Linked DNA regions of Homo sapiens. The main gene of each other region encodes a partner of the protein of the gene in region 2 in a complex. Each region holds a gene or a part of one and is shown on either strand. Other genes may lie near its edges. The genes, in order: WTAP, CBLL1 and ZC3H13.

The links.
Region 1: CBLL1 (region 2) and WTAP share a complex: the UniProt entries of both Homo sapiens proteins name them as parts of the WMM complex.
Region 3: CBLL1 (region 2) and ZC3H13 share a complex: the UniProt entries of both Homo sapiens proteins name them as parts of the WMM complex.

Annotation. Positions count from the first base shown.
Region 1 is NC_000006.12:159,730,448-159,734,201, reverse strand, and holds part of WTAP (pre-mRNA-splicing regulator WTAP), read right to left. Parts: intron 3,318-3,754; exon of another isoform or gene 3,237-3,317; intron 1,806-3,236; exon of another isoform or gene 1,771-1,805; intron 1-1,770. UniProt on the Homo sapiens protein: Associated component of the WMM complex, a complex that mediates N6-methyladenosine (m6A) methylation of RNAs, a modification that plays a role in the efficiency of mRNA splicing and RNA processing.
Region 2 is NC_000007.14:107,747,042-107,750,795, reverse strand, and holds part of CBLL1 (E3 ubiquitin-protein ligase Hakai), read right to left. Parts: exon of another isoform or gene 3,300-3,754; intron 1,917-3,299; coding exon 1,749-1,916; intron 1-1,748. UniProt on the Homo sapiens protein: E3 ubiquitin-protein ligase that mediates ubiquitination of several tyrosine-phosphorylated Src substrates, including CDH1, CTTN and DOK1. Targets CDH1 for endocytosis and degradation.
Region 3 is NC_000013.11:45,969,005-45,972,758, reverse strand, and holds part of ZC3H13 (zinc finger CCCH domain-containing protein 13), read left to right. Parts: intron 1-2,293; coding exon 2,294-2,397; intron 2,398-2,787; coding exon 2,788-3,754. UniProt on the Homo sapiens protein: Associated component of the WMM complex, a complex that mediates N6-methyladenosine (m6A) methylation of RNAs, a modification that plays a role in the efficiency of mRNA splicing and RNA processing.

The DNA.
Region 1 (3,754 bases), on a different chromosome or scaffold from region 2:
TCTCTCATTAAAACAAACAAACAAAACACACACACACCAAGACTACTTGATTTCTCCCACTTGATTTTGAGATTCCTCAAAAGGAGATAATCTTCCAACAGCATGTTTTATACTACGTACAATCTCAACTCCACTTTATAAATGAAACATTCTAATCATACTGTTATTAAACCCTGGTTTTCAGATTAAGTAAATTGTGTTGAAGAAAGCAGAATTTAGAGGAAAAATCATAAATTGATCTTAGATTACTGGCTTGCTTCTTTCTCTGTTTAATCTTTTTTTTTGGAGATGGAGTTTCGCTCTTGTTGCCCGGGGTGGAGTGCAACGGCGCGATCTCGGCTCACCGCAACCTCCGCCTCCTGGGTTCAAGCAATTCTCCTGCCTCAGCCTCCCAAGTAGCTGGGATTACAGGCATGCGCCACCACGCCCGGCTAACTTCCTTGTATTTTTAGTAGAGACGGGGTTTCTCCATGTTGGTCAGGGTGGTCTGGAAATCCCGACCTCAGGTGATCTGCCCACCTCAGCCTCCCAAGTGCTGGGACTACAGGCATGAGCCAGCGTGCTGGGCTTTTTTTTTTTTTTGAGACAGTCTCGCTCTGTCACCTAGACCACAGTGCAGTGGTGCGATGATGGCTCACTGCAATCTTGACCTCCCAGGCTCAAGTGATCCTCCCACCTCAGCCTCCCGAGTACCTGGGACTACAGGCATGTGCCACCACACCCAGTTAATTTTTTGTAATTTTTTTTGGTAGAGACAGGGTTTCGCCATGCTGCCCAGGCTGGTCTCGAACTCCTGGGCGCAAGCAATCCAACTGCCTTGGCCTCCCAAAGTGCTGGCATTACAGGCGTGAGCCACTGCACCCTGCCTTCCCTCTTTAATCTTTCTCAAGGGATACAGCAAACAGATAAAAACCTCAGTATTTGTTTCTGAGCTAATTGTATACAGTCTGTTTCACTGAGCAAGTCACTCTGTCCTATGAAGACATAAACCATATTACTATGATATAAAATGTATATTATTCTTTTTTTCTTTAAATTGGTTCCTCCCTTGTTGCCCAGTTTATTATCTCTGCTGCCATTACAGAAAGCTGCTTTGTAACTACCTTAACCTGGTGGCAGTCATTTTAATCATCTCAGAAACCATCACCATATTTAACTCCACATGTCTAACTACTTCTATTTTAGCATGACACATGCATTAGGCTGCAAAGTCTTAGAACCCAGATATCAAATCTGGCATTTCCTTGTAATTTCCCATTTGTCTGGAGCTAAATATCAATTTTACACACACACACACACACACACACACACACACTATATATATATACAGAGAGAGAGAGAGAGAGAGAGAAAGAAGCAGACAGAGACACTCCCCCTCCCCCTGCGCCCGGTCTCTGTTGCCCAGGCTGGAGTGCAATGGCGCGATCTCGGCTCACTGCAACCTCCACCGCCTGGATTCAAGCGATTCTCCTGCCTCAGCCTCCAGAGTAGCTGAGATTACAGGTGCCTGCCACCACGCCCGGCTAATTTTTGTATTTTTAGTTTCACCATGTTGACCAGGCTGGTCTCGAACTCCTCACCTCAGGTAATCCACCTGCTTTGGCCTCCCAAAGTGTTGGGATTACAGGTGTAAGCTACTGCGCCCGGCCAATAATATTTTTAATTTAAAAAATCTTAAAGACAATTTTAGCTATTTGAGCTGTACATATTTAACCGGTATATCAGTATCTGTATCTATGTATATACGAACATAAAATTTTGAGAACCAACCAGGAACTTCACGTAACAGGTACTGTGGTAGAGATCTGTGAATGACAGTTTGAAAACAGCTATATTTATCACTATGGCTAGGTGGTATACCTTTTATCTAGTTACTAAGGCATCCTACCTACTCAGTATGTACAACTTTAGTTGTAATACTAAAGTATCATGGATGCTGTTCAATATAAATTCCAGCTTATAAAAGTTATTATAGTTGGTCCTTGACCAACCCAGGTTTTAGCTGCATGGGTCCATTTATATTTGGATTTTTTTCAATCAAACTCAGATTAAAAAATACAGTACTCGGATCAAAAATACAGCATTCACGGGATGCGAAACCTGAGTATGCAAAGGGCAGACTTTTCATACACCAGGGTTCAAATTCCTATGCCAGGATTTTGGCAAGGATCATCGGTATGTGGTTCTACAACCTGATACTTTCCCTAGGTTTACTTGCTTACTCTCTTCTTAAAGACAGGTATCCATATTCTTATTCCACTAAAATAAAATTAACAGTAAGCTTAGCAAAAAATGAGATGATAATCTGTTTTTAAAGGGCATTAAAAGGACTGAGAAACACATGAAGAAAGTTCTGATAACCTTGGTATTCTGAAACAGGTTGTCAACTTTGCAAATACAAAAGTAGCAAAATCTCTGCACCTCAGTTTCCCCATCTCAAAAAGAATTACCACAACCAGGGCCCAAATACTGTGCTATTTCTGAAGACAGACATTAATCTTTAGCATGGTAACTGGCACAAAATGGGCATTTAATTAATAGTTTCTTCTCCCCATCAAAAACACAGACTCAGTGTTTCTTGAAAAACCTGAAGAGATAATCCACAGGTTGAGGATAATAATCATACTGTCCTCCCGACTGTTTCTAACACTTACTGCAGAATTCTTTGGCATCTCCAATATTTAGGATTCTAAACAGAAGTTACTTAAATTTTCTTTTTTTCCTCTCTTTTTTTGAGACAGAGTCTCACTCTGTCGCCCAGGCTGGAGTGCAGTGACTCGATCACAGCTCACTGCAGCCTCCATCTCTTGGGCTCAACTGATCCTCTTGCCTCAGCCTCCTTTGTAGCTGGGATCACAGGCATGAACCACCACGCCCAGCTAATTTGTTTTTTTTTTCTTGGTAGTAGAGATGAGGTCTTGCTATGTTGCCCAGGCTGGTCTTGAACTCCTGGGCTCAGGAATCCTCCTGCTTGGGCCTCCAAAAGTGCTGGGACTACAGTTGTGAGCCACCATGCCCAGCCTGCAATTATTGAAATTTCTTTTCTTTTTTTCTTTTTTTTGAGACGTAGTCTCTCTCTGTTGCCCAGGCTGGAGTGCACGGGCATGATCTGGGCTCACTGCAACCTCCGCCTCCCGGGTTCAAGCGATTCTACTGCCTCAGCCTCCCAAGGAGCTGGAACTACAGGCACGCACCACCATGCCCAGCTAATTTTTGTATTTCTTTTTTTTTTCTAGTAGAGACAGCGTTTCACTATGTTGGCCAGGCTGGTCTCCAACTCCTGACATTGGCTTATGTTCTTTTTAAAAAGTTTGATGGTGAGTAGATTTTAATTAAATGGTGCTTTTTATTGAAATTTTCTTTAAAAATAAAACTCTGTATTTGTAATGTAAGTCAGGAGTAAATACAGATTTTGGATAAATGTCTACACTTCCTAAGTCAACTCTCAGAGTCACTTTTAAGATCACTCTAGCTGTCTGGGGTATCCAACTTGGGAAATTCAGAGCCTCAGTATTTAGAAAGAAAATCCTTCCTCAACTTTAATCTGATGAAAAGTAAATCTTTCCTTGAAAGTCGATGATATGCCACAAAGTTAAATGCGCCATCTGGCAAAAGGCAAATTAGAACAGGTTCAAAATTTACAACTGTCTACAACATTCAACTATTTGGTCAAAATAGAACCTAATTGGCAATTTTGACTTTCACACCACACGAATGTACCGAGAAGTTTGGTATTCCCCAGGGCAATTTTTTT
Region 2 (3,754 bases):
ATAGCTGTGTTCCAATAAAATTGTTTATAAAAACAGGGCTACATTTGGCCCACAGACATAGTTTGCTAACCTGTAATCAAGGGTAAGATGGAAAAACTCTTTTATACTGGTGAAATAGGGGAAGGCCTTTCAAATAATGTCACAAAACCCAGAAGTCATAAAAGCAAAGACCGGATATCTGACTATATAGAATCTTCAAGATTCTCTGCAATAACTATAATCCCAGCACTTTGGGAGGCCGATGCGGGCGGATCATGAGGTCAGGAGATCGAGACCATCCTGGCTAACACAGTGAAACCCCGTCTCCACTAAAAATACAAAAATTAGCTGGGCGTGGTGGCGGGCACCTGTAGTCCCAGCTACTCGGGAGGCTGAGGCAGGAGAATGGCATGAACCTGGGAGGCAGAGCTTGCAGTGAGCCGAGATCCCGCCACTGCACTCCAGCCTGGGTGACAGCGCAAGACTCTGTCTCAAAAAAAAAAAGATTCTCTGCAATAAATATTTTGTATACAAAATTCAAAAGACAAATGAAGAATATATACAATATAGGCCAGGCACAGTGGCTCACGCCTGTAATCCCAGCACCTTGGGAGGCTAAGGCAAGAGGACTGTTGAGTCCAGGAGTTCAAAACCAGCCTGGGCAACATAGCAAGACCCCATGACTACAAAAATTAAATATAAAAAATTAGCCAGGCAGGTGGGGTGCACCTGTAGTCCCAGCTCCTCAGGAGACTGAGGTGGAAAGATCACTTGAGCCTGGAATATCAAGCCATGATCCCACCACTGCATTCCAGCCCAGGCAACAGAGTAAGACTCAGTCTCAAAAAAACAAAAACAAACAAACAAACAAACAAAAAAATATATATACACACACGCACATACATAACATATAACAAAAACCCTATTAATTTACAAAGAACTCAGAAGAAAGGATCTAAACAAGAATGGTCAATGCTATGAAAAAATATACACTCTTTCATAATTAAAATAAATTTACATCAAAACAAAAATTTTAAAAGGTTTCTAGTACTCAGTATTGGTGTATGGCAGTAAAAACTAACATACCTTTTTATTATTATTTTTTTAATTCCAAAGCCTTTAAAACTACAAATTTGGATATTTTAAAACTTGACAGATACTGTGGATTTTAGAGTTTGACAAGTACTGTCAAATTGCTCTTAAAAAAAAAAAAAAGGCCAAATCTGTGCAAAGTACAAATTCTACAAAGTATACATACTAAACTGTATGTCCAAGAATATTTGGTGCAATGTTTTTTGTAACAGAAAAAACTGGAAAAACTGTTAAATAAATTATGGTATATCTATAAATACCCAAACCTATTTTTTTAATGAGGTACATCTGTAAGTACTGATAAGAAAAAAATCTCAAATGCATATTACATGAAAAAATGGCAACTACACATAAAAAATTAATACTTTTGTATAAAAAAGTCAACAGGGATTATCTTTGGATAGAAGGATTTTACTTTTAATGTTATGCTTTCTGCAATACTGTTGAGATTACTGAACAATGGGCAGTATTGCTTTCAACAACAAAAGGAACCAAATCAAAAAATATTTATAAAGGAAAATAAAAATACAATGTGCTACAATGAGAAGTCAAACAAGAAGGTTGAAGAATGAATAGAATATGTAAGACAAAAAGAGGTAGCTATAAGATCACACAGACTGTCCGAAGCAATCAGATAAAACAGAAAGAGTGTTGGACCTATTAGTTAAACAAATTACCTTCATCACCAGGTGGAGCCTTTGCAGGCATCCTGTTTATAGTTCTTTGAGTTCGCGGTGCAGGTTTCGCTTTGTTTGCTTGTTTGGAGATGAGCTTTATAGGAATTCGTCTGCGAACATCAAGACCACCCAAGGATCCAGAACTATTAGTGCCTTGTAACTCATTGTCTGTGTTAGGAAAAAAAAGTTGTAATTTCTTTTAGTTTTTCTTTTTAAAGATTATTCTGCCACAGGTATTAAAACACCATACCTAACATTATCAAGGTTAAAGATCTGGGTTCTGATTTTCAATATTACATTAAGTTTAACTGCTAATTTTATTTATTTTGGATCAACACTTAAGGCAATGCTTTTTAACCCCTTTTGAGATACAGAATCCTTTAAGAAATTGATAAAAGTTATAGGACCTCTCCCTAGAAAAGTGAATAAAATTTTTCATATAATTCCAGAGAAGTTTACAGAAACATGAAACCATTAATGAACCCAAGAACCATTGTCTTGAACTACAAGAGAATTTTTTAAAAGAAAAAGAGTAAGAAGGAGAAAAAGAACGAAAACCATCCCTGTCTCCATGTCTGATCATCAAGCATGCAAAGCAGAAAATAAATTTAGTAAACTGAACTTACTAATACTGATGAAGGCAAAATTAAACAATGCGTTTGAAAATGAAGTTAAGAAATGTGATTATTCCTTAAGCGCAAAATAATTATTCTAAAAATCATTCAGAAATATAGTAAAAATCATTATACCATTTAGTAGTAAAAACATGCAATAATGTATTTGTGCTATAACATGTGACTGAGTTCTTAGTCAGCACTGTAATGGAAAATTATAATTTAAGAGGATGCAAAGTTCCTATACTACAACTAGGTCTAAACAAGTGTCACTTTCTAGTCCCTGGAGTCTTTGCTTGTTATTGTCTATAGAATAAATTAATTCTTGTCCCATGAGTAACAGGAGTATTATTTCATAGAACTGACTCCATCTAAAGCTTAAGAGTTACCTTTTTTCAAGTAGATGAAAATATATAATACAGAAAATATTTAACTTGACCTACTAAAGAAGGAAAATGCTTAAAATAGGAAATACAAATAACGTATTTTTTAATTTGTAGTGTTTTAAACATGACAAGTTATTGAACAAGGTTGTATAACTGCCCCTGCAGGAAATATTACAGTCAAGACTGATAGCCAAACCATCCACATTAAATTCAGCAAAGCCAAATTTGGAAGTAGTAAGCTAGTACCAATGGCCTCCAAGGCTACTAGGATTACAGACACACAATAAGTTCACATTCATTTGCACTTTTTCTGAACAAAATACCAAACAAAATTAAAAATGGGTCCATAACGATTATTTTAATCTACTTACTACTCTTATAACAGCTAATCCTAAAACAAAGAGGGGTGGAATTACATGGTTAGCTAGAATCTTGAGTTAGGGTTAACCCAACTTGATCAGCTTTCAACACTTCATTAAATAGACTCACAAGCTGATTAATGTATTTGATCTGTTTTCATTGTAGTTGCTTATGTATGTAAAAGTACTTACAAGCAATGCATTGGCCAAAAGAAATATGAATGACTTTTTTCCTTGCTCAAAAAGTATTCCTGACATTCCAATGAACTAAAAAGCAAGTCGTTGTAGACATATAATCAGTTCAATGCTGTCCCTCAAATATTAAATATTCAAATATCAAAATGGTTTAATCGTTTTACCTTTGTGAATAATGAAAATACCAACACTTCATTACAAGTCCTTTTCACACCATCCTGAACACTTGAGGTCTCTACTGTTGCTTGCATAGTCTACCACTTTCAAGAGCTGGCTGGCCCTTCCCACTCTGCTTCACAGATTCAAGTTCATGAGGTACAGCATTTAATAATGATAACATTCTGGGTTTCTTTGGGACTTTTTTGCTTTTTGTTGTTTTTAAATTAAGAATCAGAGCATAAAGCACTATTTCCTTTTGAATACAGTAACAAATTATAAAGTCCTTAACAACA
Region 3 (3,754 bases), on a different chromosome or scaffold from region 2:
TGAAAAATGGGGAAATAGGCCAGTTATTGATGGGAGAGGAGCTTTGGATAAAGTAGTACACAAGCTTGGGCCTGTGAGTTGTCATATTACACCTGGGGCCTTCTCCACATGGTTGTTCATCTATATAAAGGAGCTGTCTATGATATACATGTGCTGGTATGTTTTTGTTTTATTTTTATTTCAATAGCTTTTAGGGTACAAGAGGTTTTTGGTTACCTGGATGAATTCAGAGATTTTAGTGCACCTGTCACCTGAGTAGTCCACATTGTACCAAACATGTACGTTTTTATCCCTCACTCCCCTTCCACCCTCCCCCTTCTGAGTCTCCAAAGCCCATTATATCACTCTGTATGCCTTTGCATACTCATAGCTTAGCTCTCACTTACAGGTGAGAACAAGTTGCTGCAAAAGACATTATTTTTTTCCTTTTTATGGCTGAGTAGTAGTCCATGGTTTCATGGTGTATATATACCACATTTTCTTTATCCACCCATTGGCCAATGGGCACTTAGGTTGGTTCTATATCTTTACAGTTGTGAATTTTGCTGCTATAAACATATATGTGCATGTTTTTTTTTTTCATATAATGACTTCTTTTCCTTTGGGTAGATACCCAGTAGTGGGATTGCTGGATCAAATATCTCCTTTTAGTTCTTTAGGGACTCTCCATACTGTTTTTCATAGAGGTTGTACTTATTTACATACCCACCAGCAGTGAATAAGCATTCCCTTTTCACCATGTCTATGCTAACATCTCCTGTTTTTTTTACTTTTTAATGGCCATTTTTGTAGGAGTAAGGTGGCATCTCATTGTGGTTTTTAATTTGTATTTCCCTGATGATTAGTGATTTTGAGCATTTTTTCATACGTTTGTTGGCTGTTTGTATGTCTTCTTTTGAGAAATGTCTATTCGTGTCCTTTATCCACTTTTTGATGGGATTATTTATGTTTTTCTTGCTGATTTATTTGAGTTTCTTATAGATTCTGGATACTAGTCCTTTGTTGGATACATAGTTTGCAAACATTTTCTCCCATTCTATGGGTTGTCTTTGTTATTTATTTTGCTGTGCAGAAGCTTTTTAGTTTAATTAGGTTCCATTTATTTATTTTTGGTTTCGTTGCGTTTGCTTTTAGAATCTTGGCCATGAAGTCTTTGCCTAGGCCAGTGTCCAAAAGAGTTTTCCCAGTGTTAATTTCTAGAATTTTAATGGTTTCAGGTTTTAGATTTAAGTCTTTGATCCTTCTTGAGCTGATTTTTGTTTGAGCTGAGAGGGATCCGGTTTCATTCTTTTACATGTGACTTGCCAATTTTCCCACCACCATTTAGTAAATAGAGTGTCCTTTCCCCAGTTATGTTTTGTATGCTTTTGCTGAAGATCATTTGGCTTTATTTCTGGGTTTTCTATTCTGTTCCATTGGTCCATGTATACAATATGTTTCTTAACTTTTGACCATAGTATTTATAAACAAACAATGTTAGTGAAAAAACAGGTAGTCAAATTTTAATGAAAATGGGGGAAAACACTAGAATAATTTAAGTACCCAAGAGATATAAAACGCTACTCATTTAAAGCTCAACTAAGGAACAAAAAATATAATGAACGTATGAATTATTTTATTAATTTGTCAGCAAGAAAGTGATTTCCATGAAGGGGAAAGGAACTAATTTTATGGTGTACCCACAACATATTTGGCACTGGGTTTATGACATAACTAATTTATTCCTTACTGCAATTTTATGAAATGGACTCTCATTTCCCACCCATTCAGCCCCACCCACCATTTTCAGATGAGAAACTAAGGTTCAGTGACTTCAAGGAACTTACTTAAGGCTGCGTAATAACTAATGTAGTTATAAGTTGAACTCATAGCTTTTTTACTTCAAAGCCAATATTAGGTTTTCTCATTCAGCTCTGCAGCATAAGGCATTTTTATATCATAAGAATGCAAAATTGCTGAATGTTTATATCAGAGGGTACATTAATATATTGGTTTCTGTGCTGCATGTTACCACCTTACAGTATTTAAATCTGGCAATTTTCACTTGAGTTATTCTACATGTATAATGAAGAAGAAGAAGAAATGTTGTGTATTTTAAGTTCACAATTCTTAGCAAATGAAGTAAAGAATTTGTATTAAAGACACTGAATATCCTTTGTATGATACACTCTGGCAATATTGCTTTCCTACAATTATATGTTCCAGTTATAGTAAAGAGATACTAGTAAAAACAAAAAAATCTCTTTTTTTGCCCCCTAGAATTTTATAAATTGTGTTTGCTTGTCCAATTTAGGAAGCGCTATAGAAATGAAGGGAGTCCCAGCCCTAGACAGTCCCCGAAGCGCCGGCGTGAACATTCTCCGGACAGTGATGCCTACAACAGTGGAGATGATAAAAGTAAGCAGACTCTGTTTTCTGTCTCTCTATATTCATATTCATTTGTAACCATGAAACCATCCTTTCATACTAGTAGGAACTGATGAATTAAGATTTTTAAAAAGTTGTCTTGCTTTGCTGCCTCTAAATATCTCCTTTTGTGACTAAAGTATGTGTTAGAGTACTGTCATTTTCTACTATTTATAGTAAAGCCATATTTTTATTTTTACTAAAATTATTGTCATTTTAAAAGTTTTTAAATGATCTTGATCTCTTGATCTCATGATCCACCTGCCTCGGCCTCCCAAAGTCCTGGGATTACAGGTGTGAGGAGAAATTATTATAATCTATATGTACCATGCAGTGGTTACTAACCTGGTGAGAGTGTGATTGCTTTTATCTTTTATATAGATGAAAAACACAGACTCTTGAGCCAAGTTGTACGACCTCAAGAATCTCGTTCTCTTAGTCCCTCGCACCTCACAGAAGACAGACAGGGTAGATGGAAAGAGGAGGATCGTAAACCAGAAAGGAAAGAGAGTTCAAGGCGCTACGAAGAACAGGAACTCAAGGAGAAAGTTTCTTCTGTAGATAAACAGAGAGAACAGACAGAAATCCTGGAAAGCTCAAGAATGCGTGCACAGGACATTATAGGACACCACCAGTCTGAAGATCGAGAGACATCTGATCGAGCTCATGATGAAAACAAGAAGAAAGCAAAAATTCAAAAGAAACCAATTAAGAAAAAGAAAGAGGATGATGTTGGAATAGAGAGGGGTAACATAGAGACAACATCTGAAGATGGTCAAGTATTTTCACCAAAAAAAGGACAGAAAAAGAAAAGCATTGAAAAAAAACGTAAAAAATCCAAAGGTGATTCTGATATTTCTGATGAAGAAGCAGCCCAGCAAAGTAAGAAGAAAAGAGGCCCACGGACTCCCCCTATAACAACTAAAGAGGAATTGGTTGAAATGTGCAATGGTAAGAATGGTATTCTAGAGGACTCCCAGAAAAAAGAAGATACAGCATTCAGTGACTGGTCTGATGAGGATGTCCCTGACCGTACAGAGGTGACAGAAGCAGAGCATACTGCCACCGCCACGACTCCTGGTAGTACCCCTTCTCCTCTATCTTCTCTTCTTCCTCCTCCACCGCCTGTGGCTACTGCCACTGCTACAACTGTGCCTGCAACTCTTGCTGCCACTACTGCTGCTGCCGCCACCTCTTTCAGCACATCTGCCATCACTATTTCCACCTCTGCCACCCCCACCAATACCACCAATAATACTTTTGCCAATGAAGACTCACACAGAAAATGCCACAGAACACGAGTAGAAAAAGTAGAGACGCCTCACGTGACTATAGAAGATGCACAGCA